Regions from separate parts of the Homo sapiens genome. Here regions 2 and 3 are each linked to region 1. Evidence: fine-mapped expression QTL. A gene starts in region 1. Each other region holds a variant in brackets. All regions are shown on one strand. Distances are from middle to middle. Region 1 holds the start of TRIP12 (thyroid hormone receptor interactor 12). Region 2 has its middle 28 kb from the start of DNER. Region 3 overlaps FBXO36 (F-box protein 36).

What was found. PIP is the estimated chance that this variant, and not a neighbour inherited with it, causes the effect.
Region 2: its variant is fine-mapped to the expression of TRIP12 in whole blood (TOPMed, PIP 0.98).
Region 3: its variant is fine-mapped to the expression of TRIP12 in whole blood (INTERVAL, PIP above 0.99).

What each region holds. Positions count from the first base shown.
Region 1 is chr2:229,919,268-229,926,792 of GRCh38, forward strand. TRIP12 (thyroid hormone receptor interactor 12) reads right to left here and starts at 2,742. Exons shown (of 42, transcript NM_001348323.3): 1 at 2,613-2,742. It overlaps FBXO36 (F-box protein 36), which reads left to right and starts at 3,236. Exons shown (of 4, transcript NM_174899.5): 1 at 3,236-3,342. The coding sequence starts at 3,247. RefSeq lists enhancers at 1,060-1,159, 1,797-2,297, 2,298-2,798, 3,455-3,514 and a silencer at 2,235-2,624.
Region 2 is chr2:229,739,210-229,746,734 of GRCh38, forward strand. No RefSeq gene overlaps it. Among named protein-coding and RNA genes, the nearest start is that of DNER, 28 kb to the left of the region's middle. RefSeq lists an enhancer at 4,177-4,997. The variant A/G (reference allele first, on the strand shown) is at 3,240.
Region 3 is chr2:229,945,838-229,953,362 of GRCh38, forward strand. All of the region lies in intron 1 of FBXO36 (F-box protein 36), which reads left to right. Among named protein-coding and RNA genes, the nearest start is that of FBXO36, 27 kb to the left of the region's middle. RefSeq lists an enhancer at 7,126-7,525. The variant T/TACAC (reference allele first, on the strand shown) is at 3,701.

The DNA.
Region 1 (7,525 bases):
TAGCCGGGCGTGGTGGCGCGTGCCTGTAATCTCAGCTACTCAGGAGGCTGAGGCAGGAGAATCGCTTGAACCAGGAGGCAGAGGTTGCATTAAGCCTACACTGCACCACTGCACTCCAGCCTAGGCGACAGAGCAAGATTCTGCTTTAAAAAAAAAAAAAGTTACAATGGGAAAGGAATCATACATGGAATCATACATTACTACAAATTTACTTTGCCAGGTGAAAGTACTGATTTTACCGTGATCTACCTAGCATCCCATTCGTTTTTTAAATGTAACTACTTTAGTTTAGCACCTTCTGGAACCTAACTGCCAAAATTGTTCTCAAACTTTTTGAAAGTAAATGAAAAAAAAAAAGAAAAATAAAGCCTGTTCATAGACTCAAACTAAGTAGTATAAATGTCAGCTGAACAGACTTAAAAACTGCTCACACTCCAGAAAAACTGGGGATTGAATGGAAACAATGATAATCTTAATTACAGTTTTCCAATTCTTATGGATATTGGCACATTCATAGAAAGGCAGACATGTACAAAGCCCACAAACCCCAATCATATTATGTACTCTTAAGCTTAAAATAAAACTCCCTCAATCTCACAAAGATAGTCACAGCAGTTCAACATTTCTGGGGCTGAACACACAGCAGGAAGTGTCAAAAGAAAGAATTAGAAATTCTGTATACTTTAAAACTTACACTTAATATTGATCACTTTGCATGTGGTAAATATGAAAATCAGCCTCAATAAAATCCTCTACAATTTATTGTCTCTAAACCTCTGCTAATTCCATTCCTCAACCCCCCCGGGGTGTAAATGCGACACACACAGGCCTCATATACAGGCCTCTTGCCTTTTTTTCTAACACAACTAGGACCTTTGTTCTGAGCGTCGTTTTACCCCACTCAATAGCTCTTTCAACTTTCTACCCCGTATTTTTTGTTTTGTTTTTAAAGAGGAGACTCTGAGACTCAACTTGCTAGGTCTTTAAAAAATGAAATGCCAAAAATACCTAATGAGACTCTCGAGAGGAACATAAAGTTAAACACATCACTAAAGGGCCTACAAAACGGAGTAAAGCCCGGAGATCGGGTGATCTGGCAGCCCAGGCAAGATCGAGGACCGCGACTAGGAAAGGAGACAGCAGGAGAGCAGTTAGACGTCCACTTAGAACGGATTCACTGCGCTATTAACCGTACCCGCCTCCCCCCGCACCGGCCCAACCTTTACACACAAACACATTCCCTCCCCCAATTAACTAAAGAAGCAATTAAACTATGCCCACCACCAGACTCGATGCTTAGGCTAAACCTCCCCCAAAGTAAAACAGCATTATCAAAAAAACACAACATTTGTCTTAAGGGTTTGGAAGCTGCCCCTTCCGTTATCTCCTCACCACGTAAGGTAACCAATTCCCTCCTGTCCCCCACCAGGAGTTCAAAGTGTGATTTCCCCCCGATTTACATGTGTTTTTATGTTTTTCCGCATTTTTCCGTCTAGGAAATGAAGGATTTCTTATTCTGAGGAAGGGAGAGACGCCGAGGAAGACAGGATTTGAGGTTTTACTACCTTCGTTATTCGAACTCCCCTCTAACTTGTTCCTGTACTAGAAACCCACTCACTATGGAGAAGGAAGGAGAGGGGCTGAACTGATGGACAAACGTTGTAAATAATAGGTTTTATGTAATCCACATATAAATAAATTAATCGCCTGACTCGCTCTGAATGCTAATACGATTGGGGTGACAATTGGCCCACCTCCCTCCCCCAAGTCCTAGTTAAACCCACCTACCACCAATTTCCATTCTGATCTATTTAAAAGGATACTCTATTCCTCTCAGTCAAGTTTCTCGGCTTCTTTAGGCCTCCCTGCATGCCCCCCTCGTCATCATCCTCCCTCAGCCTCAACTTCCCACGGCTTAAAAAACTGCCCCGCGCAGACCCCGTCTCCGGGCTCGCCCTCCCTCAACCGTCCCTCGCCGTCCCCCTGGGCAGGAAACCCCTTACTGCGGTCTAAAGTCTCTCTGGCCTCTCCCTTCTCTGACCCTCGCTTCCCACAACTGTTGTCACTGGAGCTGCTTCCTAGTTTCCATTTCCGGGCCGTCCACGGCCCCGGAGCCTCCCCTTTCCCGATTTCCGGGCCCCTCGTCCCATTTCCGGGGAACCCTTGCCGTCTTCACACCCCCCACCTGCACTTCCGGCCCCCCACTTTCTCTCTTCCCAGACACCCTCCAAGCTCCAAAGCCCACTTCCGGCCCCCCTTGGTCCCCGCCGAGCTCCCCAACACCCGCAAGCCTTACCCCGGTTCTGTGAAGGGCCCTCCTCATTGCGGGAAGCCGGAGGAGGGACCCAGCGACCCCTACCTCCCGCCAGGCCCCGGTCCCTCCGGCCGCGGCCGCCCTCGAGCGTCTCTCCCGTCCACCCCCGGCCCGGTCCTTCCGCGGCCCCGCCGCCGCCGGCGCCGGGAGCAGGCCAAGCGGGGGCCGAATCGCGGCGATGACACAACCGGGCTTCCTGGGACTTTCTGTTCCAGCTCCTCCCCCCGCCCCCCCAACCCCTCAGCTGGCCCCCTCCCCCAAGGCTTGCCCCCGCCGCCCAGAGCTGCGCCCCAATTACCTAGTTAGGCCCCAAAGTCTCCGGTCCGGACTCGGTGGCGCGGCAGTAACTTCCACTAGCTCCCCCCACCCCCCCCAGCGGCGCGGCGGCGGCGGCTCCGGGTTCCTTCAATTATCAGCTGAGCCGCAGCACCGCGCCCGGCGTGCGCCTCCGCCCGTGCCGCCTCCCTCCCCGCCTGCTCTGACACCCTCGGGGAACTACTTTGTCCTCGGGCTCCGGTTACGGGCTCGTCCGCGGGACCGGCACCGCTGCCTACTGGCGGCCCATCACATCGCCCCTCCCTCCCACGCCTCCCGGCTCGACTCTCTCAGCAGCCTCCGATCTCCGCCCGATCCCTTCGAGGGACCAGGAAGGGGACTGTGGAGATCTACTTGGTATCCCTCCGCCGGGGTCACCCCCTCCCCTCCGTGGTAGCAGGAACTAATTCCCCCTCGGGTCACCCGGGACCTGGAGCTGGAAATTTCACGGATCAGGGTTCCCTAAGACCCTTGGAAGAGGGGACGATCGCCCCAAGTTAGAAATCCTTCTGCCAGCTCATAAGCGTGGTTCAATTTAAACTAGGGTTTTGGCCCCTTGACCCCAACCAAGCCCCGCCCCTTCCTGGTTGTCTTAGCGACGGCGGTGGCGTCCCAAGATGGCGTCGTGGCTGCCGGAGACTCTCTTTGAAACTGTAGGACAAGGCCCGCCGCCTAGCAAAGACTATTACCAGTTACTGGTCACCCGGTCTCAGGCAAGTGCGAGCCGCGGTTTACCCTCTCTCCTAACTCCCTACCTGGCCCGGTTGGGGCCCGGGACGCAGGCTGTGCTAGGCCAAGAGCAACCGTAGCCCGCCGGAAGCGCCCAGTCCCGGCTCCGCGCCGGGAGATTTTCCTCGTCACCTCGGCCTCCTCGGTCCGACGGCCCGCGTGTCCCTGCTCTCCCCGAGCCCGGCTAGTCCCTGGCAAGCCTTCTCTGCCTCCCCGCGGTGCCGCGTGCTCCTTTCCCGCCACCCCGGCTTCTTACCCGTAGAGTTTCCTCCGCGCGAAGAGGAAAACGGGCGTCTCCGGCTTGCGTGCGGCCTCACCTCAGCGTGAGAAGGAGGGAAAGAACGACTCAGCCAAGTGTCCCAAGGAGGAGCCGGCTAGGGAGGGGAAAAGGAGATTGCCTCTTTTCCAGGATAGGAATTAATCATGGAGAATTTTATAAATCTCTTTGTGGCCTTTACGCGTGCCACGGCCACATCAAAACTTAGTTATTTCTAGTAGCAACTGACGATTGGGAGCTCTTACCTTTTGGAGTCCCTTCTATCCCATTGAAAGTGTGCGGGTGGTGGTATAAAAATGTTTCAGCTGCTCTGCGCTTCAGCCCCACCCATAATGACATCTGCTCCACAACAATAAGACCGAGGATTATATTATCTCCAAAGTAACCATCGGCCTATTTTTATGCCTACTTTGGTTATTGAAGGTGGGCTTTTGGATGATTTACTGTGTCCATGAAATTCTCAACTTGAGCGGGGCCTCCATTGGGAAGACGTTTCTAATCCTGGCTGAGTTTACGCCTGTCACTGAGTTATTCATGCACCCTGCCCTTTCAATAGATACTATTCCTATAAAATGAAATTTAGAAGTTTGTATATATTTGTTTTGGTGTGCATATTGATCATTCCCTCAGTTTTTCCAGGAGCCCTTAAACAAAATAGGTAATGAGTTAATTTTTTTATATTTTTGAAAGCATCTTTTAAAATATAAATGTTAATATATATTTTTTAATTTAAGATTTAGAAATATTACAAATGTAAAATCAGCCTGTCCAAAAAAAATTTTTTTTAAAACAGTACTGCTCCTTGCGGAGCAGGGCTAATTCATAGGCAGTGGGCCCAGGGTCAGACTCAAATTTTTAATTAAACTGTTCTTAGGGGGTTTTGCACATTTAGTGATGTATGAAATACTGAAAGGTATCCTTTTCTGTACTTTTTTTTTGGTGTTGTTTTTTTTTTTTTTTTTTTTTTTTGAGACGGAGTCTCGCTCTGTCGCCAGGCTGGAGTGCAGTGGCGCGATCTCGGCTCACTGCGACCTCGTTTCACCATGTTGGCCAGGATGGTCTCGATCTCTTGATCTCGTGATCCGCCTGCCTCGGCCTCCCAAAGTGCTGGGATTACAGGCGTGAGCCACCGCGCCCGGCCTTGTACATTTTTTAAACGGATTATTGATTTTTCCATTTGTTTTAAGATTTGTTTGTTTATTTATCGAGAGGGAGTCTCCCTCTGTTGCCCAGGCTGGAGTGCAGTGGCGCGATCTCAGCTCACTGCAACCTCCGCATCTCCTGGGTTCAAGCGATTCTCCTGCCTCAGCCCCCCGAGTAACTGGGATTACAGGCGTGCGCCACCACACCCAGCTAATTTTTGTATTTTTAATAGAGACGGGGTTTCGCCATTTTGGCCAGAGTGGTCTCCAACTCCTGACCTCAGGTGATCCAGCTGCCTCGGCCTCCCAAATTGCTAGGATTATAGACTTGAGCCACCGAGCCTGGCTGGCTTTAAGATTTATGATCCTAACATTTCTTCACCTCCTAACATGAGTGGTCAAAAATATAATCTGTTCTAATCTTACATGATTTTCTATTTTTATCTACCTCAAGTAAGTTAGAATGTTTTAATTTTTACAGCCTTTAAAAATTTGTCTTTTTTTGCATTTTCTTTCCCCTGAAGGTCTGGTATTTTACAAGTATGCTTCATTTCTCTCATTTGTAAGCCTCACCAGGCTGAGTATCTTGTTACCTTTTTATTTTAGTAAATTATCCTTAGGAGTGCTCCCTGGCATTCGGCTTCCTAAAGAATAATTCTGTTGTTGGTGTTCTTCAGACTTTGCTCTCAAGTCTAACTTAGGCGCATGCCTTCCTCTAACTACTCTTTTTTTTTTTTTCTTTGAGGCAGCGTCTCGCACTGTCGCCCAGGCTGGAGTGCAGTGGCTCAATCTCAGCTCACTGCAAGCTCCGCCTCCTGGGTTCACACCATTCTCCTACCTCAGCCTCCCCAGTAGCTGGGATTACAGGCGCCCGCCACCACGCCCGGCTAATTTTTTGTATTTTTAGTTGAGATGGGGTTTCACCGTGTTAGCCAGGATGGTCTCTATCTCCTGGCATTACAGGCGTGAGCCACCGCGCCCGGCCCTAACTACTCTTTTTTAAGAAATCTTTCCCACCATCCCTTCAGTGTTCTTAATTTTTCTTTTTCTTTCTTTATTTTTATTATTTATTTATTTATTTTTTATTTTTTGCAAGTGAAAAACTCTCCTTTATCTCAGGTTCTGTCAGTTACATATATATAAAATCCTAAATTCTGATCCATTTTCTTTTTTAAGCATGCTGAATAAATCCACTACACTTCTACCAGTGAGAGTTAATCTCCAAGCTAATTAATTCACCCTCTTTTTAAAGTAAAATTTGTTGTAAAAAATGGCATGCCAAAAAAATATACTTTTCAGTCAACTGCCTTGAGAATATGCTATTTTCTAACCACAAGACAATTTTTCTGAGTCTCAGCACAGGAAACCAAACATCCAGTAAGAGGTGGCCTGACATAAATAAGTACTAAAAGACTAGCATTAAAATATGTTTTATAAGATAGATTTTTTTTCTGGAATGACTTTCTAAAATTATTTCTTGTACATTTCCTCCCCTTTCTCCTGTCTTTATTTTTTTAATGTTGTATATTATCCAAATTATGCCCCAGATTTAGATGAATCCTTCTTTCATGCTGATTCTGTTTTTTAGTCTCTTTTTCACTGCATCTTTTTCGTTGGCCTTAAATCCAAATAACTGCACATTTGACATGGATTTGAGGGCAGATATTTCTCTCATTAGTGTCATACCACCACTGACATAGTCCAGAATATAAATGTTATACATAAACATTTTCTTTGTTTATATAGTAACATTTGAAATATACTGTATGCTTATACAGGCACTTCTCTTTTACTGCTTGATACCATGTTGTTTTGGGTCTTGGGAGAGGGGTTTTATTCAAATAAATAACTTTTGGATTACAGCTTGGGGTCAGTTTAGTTTCTCGAAGCTGATCTTTATAATGATGATCTCCAGCTTTAGAAAAAATAGTGCGCTGCTTTCTAAATCAAAGATTCACTCAAGGGTTGGGCACAGTGGCTCAAACCTGTAATCCCAGAATTTTGGGAGGCTCAGGTGGGAGGATTGCTTGAACTAAGGAGTTTCAGACCAGCCTGGGCAACATAGCAAGACCCCTTCTCTTAAAAAAAAAAAAAAAAAAAAGGGGGGGCTGAGCACAGCTCATGCCTGTAATCTCAGCACTTTGGGAGGCCGACACAGGCAGATCACTTGAGGCCATGAGCTCGAGACCAGCCTGGCCAACATGGCAAAACCCCATCTCTACTAAAAATACAAAAAATTAGCTGGGCATGGTGATGCACGCCTGTAGTCCTAGCTACTCGGGAGGCTGAGGCAGGAGAATCGCTTGAACCCTGGAAGCAAAGGTTGCAGTGAGCTGAGATCACACCACTGCTCTCCAGCCTGGGCAACAAAGCAAGACTCAGTCTTTAAAATAAATAAATAAATAAATAAGATTTACTTGGCCAGGTGTGGTGGCTCACACCTGTAATTCCAGCATTTTGGGAGCCTGACGGGTGGATCACTTGAGGTCAGGAATTCAACACCAGCCTGGCCAACATGGTAAAACCCTGTCTCTACTAAAAATAAAAAAATTAGCTGGGCATGGTAGCATGAGCCTGTAATCCCAGCCACTGGGTAGGCTGAGGCAGGAGAATCACTTGAACCCAGGAGACAAAGGTTGCAGTGAGCCGAGATCTCACCACTGGGCAACAGAGTGAGACCCCATCTCAAAAACAAAAAAAAAAATACTGTTATTCTTACTCTAGCTCTAGTAGTTTACATATATTTTC
Region 2 (7,525 bases), 180 kb before region 1:
CAACACTGACAGAATTGAAAGGACAACTAAAGAGTAACAGTTACAGACTTCAATACCCACTTCAACAGTGAACAAAACAACGTAAGCAGAAGATCAACAAGAGAAGACTTCAACAATACTATTAACAAATTAGTCCTAACAACCATCTGTATAACACTCCACCCAACAACAACAGAATACCCAGTCTTAAAACAGTGGCTCATGCCTGTAATCCCAGAACTTTGGGAGGCCAAGGTGGTCAGATTGCTTGAGCCCAGGAGTTTGAGACCAACCTGGGCAACATGGTTAAACACCATCTATACTAAAAATAGAAAACTTACCTGGGCATGGTGGTGCATGCCTGTAGTTCCGTCTACTCGGGAGGCTGAGGTAGGAAGGTCACTTGAGCCTGGGAGGCAGAGGTTGCAATGAGCTGAGATCACACCACTGCACTACAGCCTGGGTGTCAGAGCAAGATCTTGTCTCAAAAAATAAAAATAAAAGGATTAAAATCTAACAAAGTATGTTCTATACCCACAATGGAATGAAATTTAAAATCAATAACAGACAAAAAGGGAAACTTTACAAATATGTGGTAATTAAACAACATACTCCAAAATAACCAAAGGGCAAAAAATGAAATACAAGGGAAATTAGAAAATGCTATGAGATAAATAAAAACAAAAACACATTATAGCAAAACCTGTGGGATGTACTGAAAGCAGTGCTTAGAAGGAAATATGTAGTTGTAACACCTATATTTAAAAAGAAGCCTGGCTGTGGTGGCCCACGCCTGTAATCCCAGCACTTTGGGAGGCTGAAGCAGAAGGATTGCTTGAAGCTAGGAGTTCGAGACCAGCCTGGGTAACAAAGTGGGAAAAAAAAGGAAAAATTAGTCAGGCCCAGTGGCATGCACCTGTTGTCCCAGCTACTTAGGATGCTGAGGTGGTAGGATTACTTGAGCCCAGGAGTTTGAGGCTGCAGTGAACTATGATCATGTCACTGTATTCCTGCACTCCAGCCTGGGTGACAGAGTAAAATCTTGTCAAAGAAGAAGGAGAAGGAGGAGGAGGATCCCAAATAAAAAACCTAATCTTCCACCTTAAGAAACTAGAAAAGGAAGGTAAAACAGAATGGAAATAATAGTTGTCGTGTATTATCTCTGAGAAACTGAGCCCATGAAATGAGATAACCATCTTTAGAGGCAATGTGTCAGGGTGTTGATAGCTGATTTCAGAGCCAAGAGTTTGAGTGTTATGTTTCCACAGAGTATAAATGTTGCAAACACACTTGGACAAGTGATGGGAGACGCAGATAATATGAAATAAAGGCCTATGCTGTGCATTTCCTGTTTTCAAAAGGCAAGGTACAGACTCCATCTTTGATAGCTATAAGAAGGTCTCACTTCAGATTGTTCTGCCCATGTTCGCTCCCGTGCTCATCTCCAGCCACTTTCACTTTGGGCCATTGTAAGAGATGCTTTCCCATCCTCTGAAAGATTATCAAGCAAATGGCTGGATCAGAGATACAAGAAGACAGGAGACCCTCTGGACCTTCAGGGATAACAGAGAACGCCGGGAAACAGCCAGGGAACATATGTTGTGGATAAGAGTAAGGAATCTGGATGAGAAGAATGGGGAGGCGAGTGGATGGAATAAGAGTGAGGAATCTGGATGAGAAGAAGAGGGAGGCAAGTGGCTGGATGTGTCTCCAGCTCTGCATACTAAGTCAGGAGCCCAAGGCTGATGAGTCTTGGGCTCAAACAATCTATTTTCCACACACGGCCCCTAGGAGCATGATTCCAAATTTCCCTGAACTAAGTGTAAACAAGTATTTGTATGATTCTCTGCAATGCTGAGGACCACCCCAGGCACTGGCTATGAAGGCAGACTCTAGAACATTCTCTCTGTAGCAGCAGTGACCACCTTTATACTGATCTTTTCTTCACCCAGCAAGACAAATATTAACTATCCCATTGCCCTTGAACTCTTACTCATTATCCCCCCAGATCCTCTCTCCCATTAGGGTTTTTTCATTAAGGTGTCATTACTACAGCAATAATATGTCCTAGATTTCTTCTAAGTAAGTGATTAAGTGTTTGATAATATGTGAAATGCGTGAAGTACTAAAACATACAAAACTAATCTATGTTGTTAGAAGTCTAGAGAGTGGTTGCTCTTGAGGGGGATAGTAGTTGAAATAGGGCACAAGGGAGATTTCTGATGTTCTGATAATGCTCCCTTTTGATCTGGGTGTGGGTTACATGGATGTGTTCAGTGTGAAAAAATTCATCAAGTTGTATACTAATGCTATGTGTACTTTTCTGCAGGCATAATTTTTTAAATTAACAAATAATAAAATTGACTTTTTGAGTGCACAGGCCTATGAATTTTAACACACACATAGATTCAGGTAACCACCATAATGAGAATACAAAAGCAGTGCAAAAAACTCCTCATGCTAGCCTTCTGTACTCATACCCTCTCCCCACCCAAAACCCATGTCAACCACCAATCTGTGCTCTGATCCTGTGACTTTTAGTTTGTCTTTTCAATAATGTCATACAAAAAGAAGCATGCAATATGTAATCTCTTTTTTTTTTTTTTTTTTTTTTTGTTTGAGATGGGGTCTTGCTCTGTCACCAGGCTGGAGTGCAGTGGTGCGATCTCAGCTCACTGCAACCTCCGCCTCCCGGGTTCAAGCAATTCTCCTGCCTCAGCCTCCCAAGTAGCTGGGACTACAGGTACACACCACCACAACCAGATAATTTTTTGTATTTTTAGTAGAGATGGGGTTTCACCGTGTTGGCCAGGATGGTCTCAGTCTCTTGACCTCATGATACCCCTGACTCGGACTCCCAAAGTGCTGGGATTACAGGCGTGAGCTACTGTGCCTGGCCTGCAATATATAATCTCTTTAAAAGGTTGACTACTGTCCCTGTCCCTGTCCCTGTCCCTCTCCCTCTCCCCATTGTCTCCCTCTCCCTCTCTTTCCACGGCCTCCCTCTCCCTCTCTTTCCACAGTCTCCCTCTGATGCCGAGCCAAAGCTGGACTGTACTGCTGCCATCTCGGCTCACTGCAACCTCCCTGCCTGATTCTCCTGCCTCAGCCTGCCGAGTGCCTGCGATTGCAGGCGCGCGCCACCACGACTGACTGGTTTTCATATTTTTTTGGTGGAGACGGGGTTTCGCTGTGTTGGCTGGGCTGGTCTCCAGCTCCTAACCGCGAGTGATCCGCCAGCCTCGGCCTCCCGAGGTGCC[A/G]GGATTGCAGACGGAGTCTGGTTCACTCAGTGCTCAATGGTGCCCAGGCTGGAGTGCAGTGGCGTGATCTCGGCTGGCTACAACCTCCACCTCCCAGCCGCCTGCCTTGGCCTCCCAAAGTGCCGAGATTGCAGCCTCTGCCTGGCCGCCACCCCGTCTGGGAAGTGAGGAGCGTCTCTGCCTGGCTGCCCATCGTCTGGGACGTGAGGAGCCCCTCTGCCTGGCTGTCCAGTCTGGAAAGTGAGGAGCGCCTCTTCCCGGCCGCCATCCCATCTAGGAAGTGAGGAGCGTCTCTGCCCGGCCGCCCATCGTCTGAGATGTGGGGAGCGCCTCTGCCCCGCCGCCCCATCTGGGATGTGAGGAGCGCCTCTGCCCGGCCCGACCCCATCCGGGAGGTGAGGAGCGTCTCTGCCCGGCCGCCCCGTCTGAGAAGTGAGGAGACCCTCCGCCCGGCAGCCACCCTGTCTGGGAAGTGAGAAGCGTCTCCGCCCAGCAGCCACCCCGTCCGGGAGGGAGGTGGGGGTCAGCCCCCGCCAGGCCAGCCACCCCGTCCGGGAGGAAGGTGGGGGGTCAGCCCCCCGCCCGGCCAGCCGCCCCGTCTGGGAGGGAGGCGGGGGGCTCAGCCTCCCGCCCCGCCAGCCGCCCCGTCCGGGAGGGAGGTGGGGGGGTCAGCCCCCGCCAGGCCAGCCGCCCCGTCCGGGAGGGAGGTGGGGGGGTCAGCCCCCTGCCCGGCCAGCCGCCCCGTCTGGGAGGGAGGTGGCGGGGGTCAGCCCCCCACCCGGCCAGCCGCCCCGTCCGGGAGGTGAGGGGCGCCTCTGCCCAGCCGCCCCTACTGGGAAGTGAGGAGCCCCTCTGCCCGGCCAGCCGCCCCATCCGGGAGGGAGGTGGAGGGGGGGTCAGCCCCCCGCCCGGCCAGCCGCCCCGTCCGGGAGGTGAGGGGCACCTCTGCCCGGCCGCCTCTACTGGGAAGTGAGGAGCCCCTCTGCCCGGCCAGCCACCCCGTCCGGGAGGGAGGTGGGGGAATCAGCCCCCCGCCCAGCCAGCCGCCCCGTCCGGGAGGGAGGTGGGGGGGTCAGCCCCCCTCCTGGCCAGCCACCCCGTCCAGGAGGTGAGGGGCACCTCTGCCCGGCCGCCCCTACTGGGAAGTGAGGAGCCCCTCTGCCCGGCCACCACCCCGTCTGGGAGGTGTACCCAACAACTCATTGAGAACGGGCCATGATGACAATGGCAGTTTTGTGGAATAGAAAGGGGGGAAAGGTGGGGAGAGGATTGAGAAATCGGATGGTTGCCATGTCTGTGTAGAAAGGGGTAGACATGGGAGACTTTTCGTTTTGCTCTGTACTAAGAAAAATTCTTATCCTGTTGATCTGTGACCTTACCCCCAACCCTGTGCTCTCTGAAACATGTGCTGTGTCCACTCAGGGTTAAATGGATTAAGGGCGGGGCAAGATGTGCTTTGTTAAACAGATGCTTGAAGGCAGCATGCTCGTTAAGAGTCATCACCACTCCCTAATCTCAAGTACCCAGGGACACAAACACTGCGGAAGGCCGCAGGGCCCTCTGCCTAGGAAAACCAGAGACCTTTGTTCACTTGTTTATCTGCTGACCTTCCCTCCACTATTGTCCTATGACCCTGCCAAATCCCCCTCTGCGAGAAACACCCAAGAATGATCAATAAAAATAAATAAATAAATTAATTAATTAAATTAAAAAAAATAAAAAGGTTGACTACTTTCATTCAGCATGCCTCTGAGAATCATCCAAGTTGTTGCATCTATCAACAGCTCATTCCTTTTGATAGATAAGTAGTATTCCATTGTGTAAATGTACCACAGGGCTTTTTTAAATCCATTCATCCATGGAATGATATTTCGGTTGTTTGCTGTTTTTGACAATTATGAAGCAAGTTGCTATGAATACTGTGTACAGGTTTTTGTGCAAACATACGTTTTCATTTCTCTGAGGTAAATAAGTAGAAATGCGTCTGCTGGCTCATGTGGTAAGTGTAGGTTTAACTTTCTATGAAATTGCCAAACTGTTTTTCAGAGTGGCTGTACCATTTTCCTTTCTCATCAGCCATGTAGGAGAGTTCCAGTTGCTCCCATTTTCATCAGCACTTGGTATTGTCAGTATTTTTTATTTTAGTATTCTAATTGGTGTATCACCATACACTAATTATGGTTTTAATTTGCATTTTATGGTGTATCACTATACCTAATTATGGTTTTAATTTGCATTTTCCTAATGGCTAATGCTTTTAAACGTCTTCCCATATACTTATTTTCCATCTGTATATAATGTGTCTTGGTCTGTTTGTGCTTCTATAACAAAATACCTTAGACTGGGTAGTGTATAAACAATAGAAATGTATTTCTTACAGTTCTGGGAGGATGGGAAGTCCATGATCAAGAAGCAGATTTGATGTCTGATGAGGCCAGCTTTCTGCTTCCAAGATGGTGTCCTATGAATGAACGCTGTGTCTTCACATGGTGGAAAAGATGGAAAGGGGCAAATCCACTCCCTCAATCCCTTTCATAAGGGCCCTAATCCCACTCCCATGACTCAGTGACCTTCTAAAGTCTCTGCCTCATAATATTATCACATTGGTGAATAACTTTCAACATATGAATTTCAGGGGACACATTCAGACCATAGCACTCTTTGGCAAATAACCAAGTCCTTTGTCCACTTTTTCATTAGATTGTTTCTTTTTGTATTGTTCTGTTTTGAGAGCTCTTTACATATTCTGTATACAATGTACCAGAATATATGTCTATTACATATACAAATCCTTGGTCAAATATGTGATTTGCAAATATTTTCTCCCAGTTTGTTAATTTGTCTTTCAATTCTCTTACCAGTGTCTTTGACAAAAGTTCTTAATCTTGAGAAGTCCAATTTATTGATTTTTTTCTTTCATAAATTGTGGTTTTATGTTATGGCTAAGAGCCCTTTGTTTAAACTCAGGCTGTGAAGATGTTCTCTTATGTTTTCTTCTTAAAGCTGTATAGCAAAACCTGGACTAGGGTGACATAAGGGAGGTGCCTAGGGCACAAAATTTAAAAAGCCTCTCACTTTCAGGATCATACTTGCATAACTAAAGTGAGTGCCTCCTTAAATTTTGCATCCTAGGTACATTCCTTTTTTCACCCTAGTCCCAGCCTTGTTTTATAGTTTTTTGTTTTACATGCAGTTCTATGCTCCGTTTTGAGTTAATTTTTATATAAGGTGGAGGTTTAGTTCAAAGTTCATTTTTTTGGCCTATGGATGTCTAATTGTTCCTTTGCCATTTGTTGAGAAGGCTGTCTTTCCTCCACTGAATTTCCTCCATTCTTTGCATCTTTGTCAAAAAATTAGTCGAACACATATGTGTGAGTCTATTTCTGGACTCTCTACCTGTTTCATTCATCTATATGCCAATATAAATCCCTTTGCTAATATCACACTGTCTTGATTACTCTAACTTTATAGCAAGTCCTAAAGTCAGAGAGTGGGATTCCTCCAGCTTTAATTTTCTTTTTCAAAGTCGTTTTGGCTATTCTAGTTTATTTGCCTTTCCATATACATTTAGGAATTAGCTTGCCTAGATTTACAAATAATCATGCTGATATTTTAATTTTATTTGTAATTGTGTTAAATCTGTAATTGCATCTACTGAGTAATGACAAGGTAGAAGAGAAGGCAAAGGTGATGGAGACACCAGTGAGCAGAGGAAAGGTAGAAAGAGAGGCTGATCTTTCATTATCTACCATGTGCCAGACACGGCTTAGGATTTATGTTATTTTATCTAATTTAATCCCCTAAACTAAACTATGAGACAGATAGTATCATTCTTACTTTTTGACTGAGGAAGCCGAAGCTCAGAAAGAGTCAGTAGTGGGAAGGCAGAGGCAGGCTGGGATCGGAACCCAGGATAGCTTTACTCACTCCATCAGCCTCCCATCTTTTTGCCCTAAGACTGCTTAAATCTGTCCATAGATCCCTAGTTAGAAAAGTGCATTCTCCCAAGAAGGGAAAAAATAGCTCTCATGGTCAAGAATAAACGTCAGAAGTTGGCCAAACATTCCAGTAAGAGTGAGGCCAAAGCCAGGTACAGTGGCTCATGCCTATAATCCCAACACTTTGGGAGACTGAGGTGGGAGGATCACTTGAGGCCAGGAGTACAAGACCAGCCTGGGTAACATAGTGAGACTTCATCTCCACCAAACATTAAAAAATTAGCCAGGTGTGGTGGTATACACCACACCTGTAGTCTCTCTCTTTTTTTTTTTTTCTTTTTCTTTTTC
Region 3 (7,525 bases), 27 kb after region 1:
CATGGGGAAACCCTGTCTCTACGAAAAATACAAAATTAGCCAGGCATGTTGGCGCATGCCTGTAATCCCAGCTACTTTGGAGGCTGAGGCAGGAGAGTCCCTTGAACCCGGGAGGCGGAGGTTGCAATGAGCTGAGATTACGCCATTGTACTCCAGCCTGGGTAACGAGAGCGAAACTCCATCTAAAAAAAAAAAAAAAGACAAAACTGGTAATTGGGAGGATGAAAAGGAAGTAAAACAGGAGTAAGAACTTTGCATTGCGGCCCCAGGGGGTTGTGGTGGAGGGAAGGAAGCGGAAGCAGGTACCTGAGACCATAGGACTGTACTTCCATGGGACATGTATGATCCAGGTGGATACAAGCCAGGTCTTGATGCACTGCTGTGTTTAAGGTGTGCTGTGAGCTAAGCCTCTGCAGCATAGTTTATGCTCGTCCTACCCCCTTGTAAAAATTATCTTTTCAACTCGCCCATTGTCACCTCTATCCTTCATTCAGCCTTTGCTTATGCTACTCCTCCACTTGGAACACGCTTTCCCCAATCTTTGCCTAGTCATTCATCCTGTTAGATCTGCCTGCATCTCTGCCAAGAATCCCCTTAACTTGGCCTTTTTCAGGAGTGAGTTTGAGGAGAAAGCTTAGGAAATAATAAGCCAAATTTTTGTGTCTTAAACATCCAGTTAACTCTGGATAGTGACAGCCAACAACATGGAGTCATAAAAGCAAAGGTAAAAACTTGAATAAGCAACAAGACATTGAAGAAAATATCTCGACATGATCAGCAACAGGCAACATCAGTTTCTTAGCATCTCTTAAAGACTGATAGAGGAGAGACAATTTCTTTTCTAGCAAACAAGAGATGGTGAATGGAAATTAGCCTCTTCTAATGTAAGCTGTGTAGACTAAACACTGTAAGAGCCTAATGTTCAGCGTGCACATGGTCATGAATCCAGCTTTTAGTACAATGCCAAGCACAGTGTGAACTCAGTACATATTTGTTGCATTAATAAATATTAGTCCTATTTGCTGTTGGATTAAAAGCAAGTATAGAAGTCAGGCGCTGTGGCTCATGCCTATAATCCTAGCACTTTGGGAGGCTGAGGCTAGTGGATCACCTAAGGTCAGGAGTTCCAGACCAGCCTGGCCAACATGGTGAAATCCCGTCTCTACTAAAAATACAAAAAATTAGCTGGGCATGGTGGCAGGTGCCTGTAATCTCAGCTACTTGGGAGGCTGAGGCAGGAGAATCACTTGAACCCGGGAGGCGGAGGTTGCAGTGAGCCGAGATCACACCATTGCACTCCAGCCTGGACAACAAGAGCGAAACTCTGTCTCAAAAGTAAATAAATAACAATAAGAAGCAAGTATAGAATACAAAAATGGCACAAAGCAAGGAAGTAAGGCAGGAAGGGTTTTATGTAGGTTGTGACTATATGATATGAATCTCAAAAGTTATATTTTACAGAGTAAAGAAGTAGGGAGCTGGAATAATTCTAGGCAGGAGGGATTCATTTTAGCAGTCAGTGAATTGTGATACTATAGTTGGGAAGTACAGTGATGTGCTGAAATGTAGGGCATAGTCAGTGGCTAGTATGAGATGATGCTGAAGGAGAGATGGACAGGGGTCACTCCTTGGCCTTCTATGCCACCCCAAGGATTTGGGCCATGGGGAAGAAAAAGGGATCACATCGACACCAGCATCTTAGTAAGCAGCCTTTGGCTGCTGTGTAGAAGATTGCTTGGATCAGTTTAAGCCCATGGAGGCAGAGAGCTTTCTTATTAGATTTTGTCATGATCCTCTAAAGTACCACGGAGTTGAATGTCAAGTTATATTAAGGAAGTGAAATCAATAGAATTTAGTCATGGAGTTGATATTTTGTGATGATAGAGGCTAAGAAAGTCTAGAATGACTCAACTAGTGCCACCAAAATAAGGAATACAGGAAGTGGACTAGGTAGGTTTCAAAGGGAAGATGATGAGATCAGTTTTTTATAGCTGAGTATAAACTGCCCCTGTGGATTACAGGTGGGTGTGCACAGTAAGCAGCTGCATAATTTAGTAGGATTCAACATCAAGAGTGAAGATACAGATTTTGACTCTGCAGCACTGAAAACCATTTGGATTAGATTACCTAGACAGAGGAGGGATGTCACTAAGGACAGAGCTTCAACATTTAGAAGTCAGGCTGGGTGTGGTGGCTCACGCCATTAATCCCAGCACTTTGGGAGGCCAAGACAGAAGGTTCATTGAGACCAGGAGTTCAAGAGCCGCCTAAGTAACATAACAAGACCCTTTCTCTACAAAAAAAAAAAAAATTATGTTTTTAAAAATAAACATTTAAGAAGTTAAGGCAGAGGAACACTTGTGTCCCCACATTTACATGTTCTTTTTACTTTTGGGGAGAAATGTACATCATTGATATTGGTGTTCTAATCTACACAAGTTATTTGAGGTTGGGTTAAATATTTTTCATTGTAAGTAACGAATTGCTTTTAGAGCAGGAACAGTCTGAAAAAACAGTGTTGGTAAAGGCATGGGAAAAGGCCTCCTCTGTGTGATGTCCCAAGGAGTGTAAATTAGTACATTCTTCCTGTGGCAGAAACCATTAGTTGCCCCCAATATCCATTTTCTCTTTTCCTTAGTAAACAATTATCTGACTTTTAGCCGAACACTTGGGCTTTAGAGAAAAAAAAAAAAAAAAAAAGACTTCATTTCTCATCCTCCCTTGCAGCTACAGTTAGCCACATGACTAAATTCTGGCCAAGGGAATGGCAGTGGAAGGGGTGACTGTGACTACACAGAAGAGTCTGTGAGAGTTGGACCCTTTTCATCTCTTCCTCCTTCCTACTGTCTAGAATGCAGATTCTGTGGCTAGGACTTCAGCAGCTATCTGGTACCACGCAAAAGCAGCCAAATTCTGAAAGTGACGGAAAACCCAAATGGAAAGGGGCCTGGTTCCCTGGGTTATGGACTGCCTACTGCCTCTTTATTTTATTTTATTTTATTTTTTATTTTTTTGAGACGAAGTCTCATTCTGTTGCCCAGGCTGGAGCGCAGTGGCATGATCTCAGCTCACTGCAGCCTTCGCCTCCCGAGTTCAACTGATTATCCTGCCTCAGCCTCCCTAGTAGCTGGGACTACAGGCGCCGGCCACCACACCCGGCTAATTTTTGTATTTTTTAGTGGAGACGGGGTTTCACCATATTGGCCAGGCTGGTCTTAAACTCCTGACCTCGTGATCCGCCCGCCTTGGCCTCCTAAAGTGCTGGGATTACAGGCATGAGCCACTGCGCCCAGCCTCAGGATGCCTCTTTTTTTTACATAAATGCCTGTCTGTATAAGCCACCCTTTTGGATGTTGTCTCATTCAACTGGACCTAGTTCTGTCTGATGTGCTTCCCAAAGACAGCTTAGCAATGTTTTGTCAAGTGTAACGTGTGCACGTCCTTTATTCTGGCATCCCACCTCAGGGAATTTACCCTAAGGAAATAATTACACAAATAGGGAGTGGAGAAGAGTAAAATAAAAGTCCTTCAAAGAAAATTGGTTAAGTAAATTAAAATTATGTAAAAAGGAACACTGTGAAGCCACTAAAAATAATGATGCTATATTTAGACATCACATGAATAGATGTCTGTGACACTAAAGTATAAGAAGAGATTATAGACAAGCATGTTTAGAATTATCCCATTCATGTAAAATGTA[T/TACAC]ACACACACACACACACACACACACACAGATTAATCTGTGTAAGTATATAGATGCTGAGAAATACTTGGTAGATGTCTATAAGTATAAAAATATTCCAATATTCTTTGCCAGGCATGGTGGCTCACACCTGTAATCCCAGCACTTTGGGAGGCCAAGGCGGGCGGATCACGAGGTCAGGAGATTGAGACCATCCTGGCTGACACGGTGAAACCCTGACTCTACTAAAAATACCAAAAATTAGCCGGGCGTGGTGGCGGGCGCCTGTAGTCCCAGCTACTCGGGAGGCTGAGGCAGGAGAATGGCGTGAACCTGGGAGGCGGAGCTTGCAGTGAGCCGAGATCGTGCCAGGGCACTCCAGCCTGGGTGACAGAGCGAGACTCCGTCTCAAAACAAAAACAAAAACAAAAACTTGTCTCTGGAAAATGAGACACATTAGATGGCAGCCAACTGGAAGAAATTTTACATTAACTTGTCTCAGGAAAAATTAATCATAGCATGTAGCTTCAGTGCCTCCAGCAGCCACCCTGAGCTCTAGGACAGGGGACACTGGCCCAGGGGAGCTGACAAGAGCAGTGAGACCAGGAGCTTGCTTTAAAATCACAGCCCAGGCTGGGCGCAGTGGCTCATGCCTGTAATCCCAGCACTTTGGGAGCCTGAGGTGGGTGGATCACGAGGTCAGGGGTTCGAGACCAGCCTGGCCAGCATGGTGAAACCCCATCTCTACTAAAAATACAAAAATTAGCTGGGCATGGTGGCACGTGCCTGTAATCCCAGCTACTCAGGAAGCTGAGGCAGGAGAATCGCTTGAACCCAGGAGGCAGAGGTTGCAGTGAGCCGAGATCACTCCACGGCACTCCAGACTGGGCAACAGAGCAAGACTCCATCTCAAAAATAAATAAATAAATAAAATCACAGCCCAAAGGGAAAAGAGAGAGCTGAGTGCAGGATAGTGAGGGAGGAATGTGAGGTATGGAGGTAAAGTAAGTTCTGTCTAAGGTCAGAAATGTCAAAAGACAACATTACAACAAATTTTATCATAGATCTAATTAGCTATTATTCGCAATTCATGAGTCAGGTCAGCCTCCTTTCCACAGAACGGAATGAGAGCTCCCACTGAGCAATGGCCGAACAGTGGGTTTTGTAGGATGGAAAACAAGGAAACAGAACAATAGGGAAAAAAATCATATTGGTTAACACAGGTTACTTCAGGCTACTTTTTTTTTTTTTTTTTTTTTTGAGACAGAGTCTCGTTCAGCCGCCCAGGCTGGAGTGCAGTGGGGTGATCTTGGCTCACTGCAACCACTGTCTTCTGGGTTCAAGTGATTCTCCTGTCTCAGCCTCCCAAGTATCTGGGATTACAGGCATGCGCCATTATGCCCCACTAATTATTTTATTTTATTTTATTTTATTTTTGAGACGGAGTCTCGCACTGTTGCCCACACTGGAGTGCAGTGTTGTGATCTTGGCTCGCTGCAACCTCCGCCTCCTGGGTTCAAGCGATTCTCCTGCCTCAGCCTCCCGAGTAGCTGAGACTACAGGTGTGTGCCACCACACCCGGCTAATTTTTTGTATTTTTAGTAGAGACAGGGTTTCACCTTGTTAGCTAGGATGGTCTCGATATCCTGACCTCGTTATCCACCCACCTCAGCCTCCCAAAGTGCTAGGATTACAGGCGTGAGCCACCGCGCCCGTCCCAGGCAACTTTTTTTTCTTCTTTTTTTTTAGACGGAGTTTCGCTTTTGTTGCCCAGGCTGGATTTCAGTGGCGTGATCTCGGCTCACTACAACCTCCGCCTCCTGGGTTCAAGTGATTCTCCTGTCTCAGCCTCCCAAGTAGCTGGGATTACAGGCACGTGCCACCATGCCTGGCTAAGTTTTGTATTTTTAGTAGAGATGGGGTTTCATCGTGTTGGTCAGGCTGGTCTTGAACTCCTCATCTCAGGTGATCTGCCTGCCTTGACCTCCCAAAGAGCTGGGATTACAGGCGTGAGCCGCCGCGCCCAGCCCAGGCTACTTTTTTGTAAAGCATTAAAGCAGAAAGGACTTCCTTATGATGCTTACTCAGGTAGACTGGAATCTCCTGATTTCAGGGAAAATCGATCTGCTTTGGGATCTATCTTCTCCCTTAAAGTTTCAGTTGGATGATGGGGCATTTAGAAGAAGTGATTCCATTTTAGTTGGTCTGCTCTCTTGGGGCCTAGTGCAGGAGCACAGGCCAAAACAATGGTCTCCCATAATTTTGTTTAACTGAAGTCAGCAAGTGGAAACAAGGAAAGATCTAGATTATATGACTTGTCAAGTGATTGCAAGTGATTTTGCTCAATTCCAATTTAGCTTAAACACAAAGGACCCTGGAATGCTTTGGCCATTTGAGCCTGAGAATGAAACCTCATAAATATTGACACGAAAGCTCTCGCCAAGTTTTGCACTGTGGTCATGGCTATAACTTGGTGAAAAAAAAATTTTGCATGAAATGTTTTATTTAAACTTTTTTTCAAGAAAATGTTTTTTTCTCCCTAACAGAACATTTCATAAGTTATTTTAATTACTGTATCTAATTTTTTTTAGGCATTGCTTTATTTTAAATTGTATGTTTGAAAATTTATAACTATCATAACCAGACTGCAGGCCAAACAACTTCAGGTTTGGTGGAGAAGGACATTCCCTTGAATTTTCTCCTCTTCTTTTCCCTCTAGTTTCTGCTTTTCTCCCTTAAATCCTCTTCATTCCTTGCCTTAGGGGAGTTTCCCAAGACAACACCTTGAGATGCAAGAGTTTAGGAGTTTTAAATTTCAAAAGCCCAAACATTGGGTAGAGGCTTAAAGTTTAAGACACAGATAATAGAATGGTTAGAATATGCAGAGTCCATCTCTGTATTCTCTAATCAAGCAAACATCTCAGATTGCAAGAGGGAGAAGATATTCTCAGAGAATGAGGTTAGATACTGCTGTTTCCCATGAGGCATCCTCAGCTTTCAATCAAGTTGGGGAGTGAAAGTCAGTAAACCAGTGGCTGAGCAAACCTCCGCCCCGACCTTTCTCACAGGGCCACAGATGAATGGGAGAGCCAGCCGAGAAATCTAAAGTGCCTCGCATCCCCAGCAGTTTGCTAAAGGAGGTAGTGGCTGGACAGGTTAAGACACCCTCCCAGCCCCCCAGCCTCCTGCAGTACTCAGGGAACCATTAGGCACCTTATTCTGCAGCCACCAGTGGGGCAGTGTTGCCAAGAGGGTACCAGGAGGAGAATCCTGCAGCCTTGAGCTGTGCAACTGATAACGAACTACAGATGGGATGGACGCCATCTTACCTGATGCTGGCCAGTAGATCATGACATGGAGAACTCCCCGCTATTCCTGAGAAACTTGGACTTTGACTCAACAGAGAGGTGAGGGAGGTGCCAACGTGACCAATATTTGGTTTTAGGAAACATTTTCTCGGGTTGGGATGGAGAGAGATGTTTTTCCCTGTTTACTGTGTTCATTTTGCCATGTGCATGTATTGCCTATTTGAAAAGAAAACGGCCGGGTGCGGTGGCTCACGCCTGTAATCCCAGCACTTCGGGAGGCTGAGGCGAGTGAATCACCTGAGGTCTGGAGTTCGAGACCAGCCTGGCCAACACGGCAAAACCCAACCTCTACTAAAAACACAAAAAATTAGCTGGACGTGGTGGTAGGCGCCTGTAATCCCAGCTACTTGGAAGGCTGAAGCAGGAGAATTGCTTGAACCCGGGAGGCGGAGGTTGCAGTGAGCGGAGATTGCGCCATTGCACTCCAGCCTGGGCGACAGAGTGAGACTCTCAAAAAATTAAAAAAAGAAAAGAAAAATA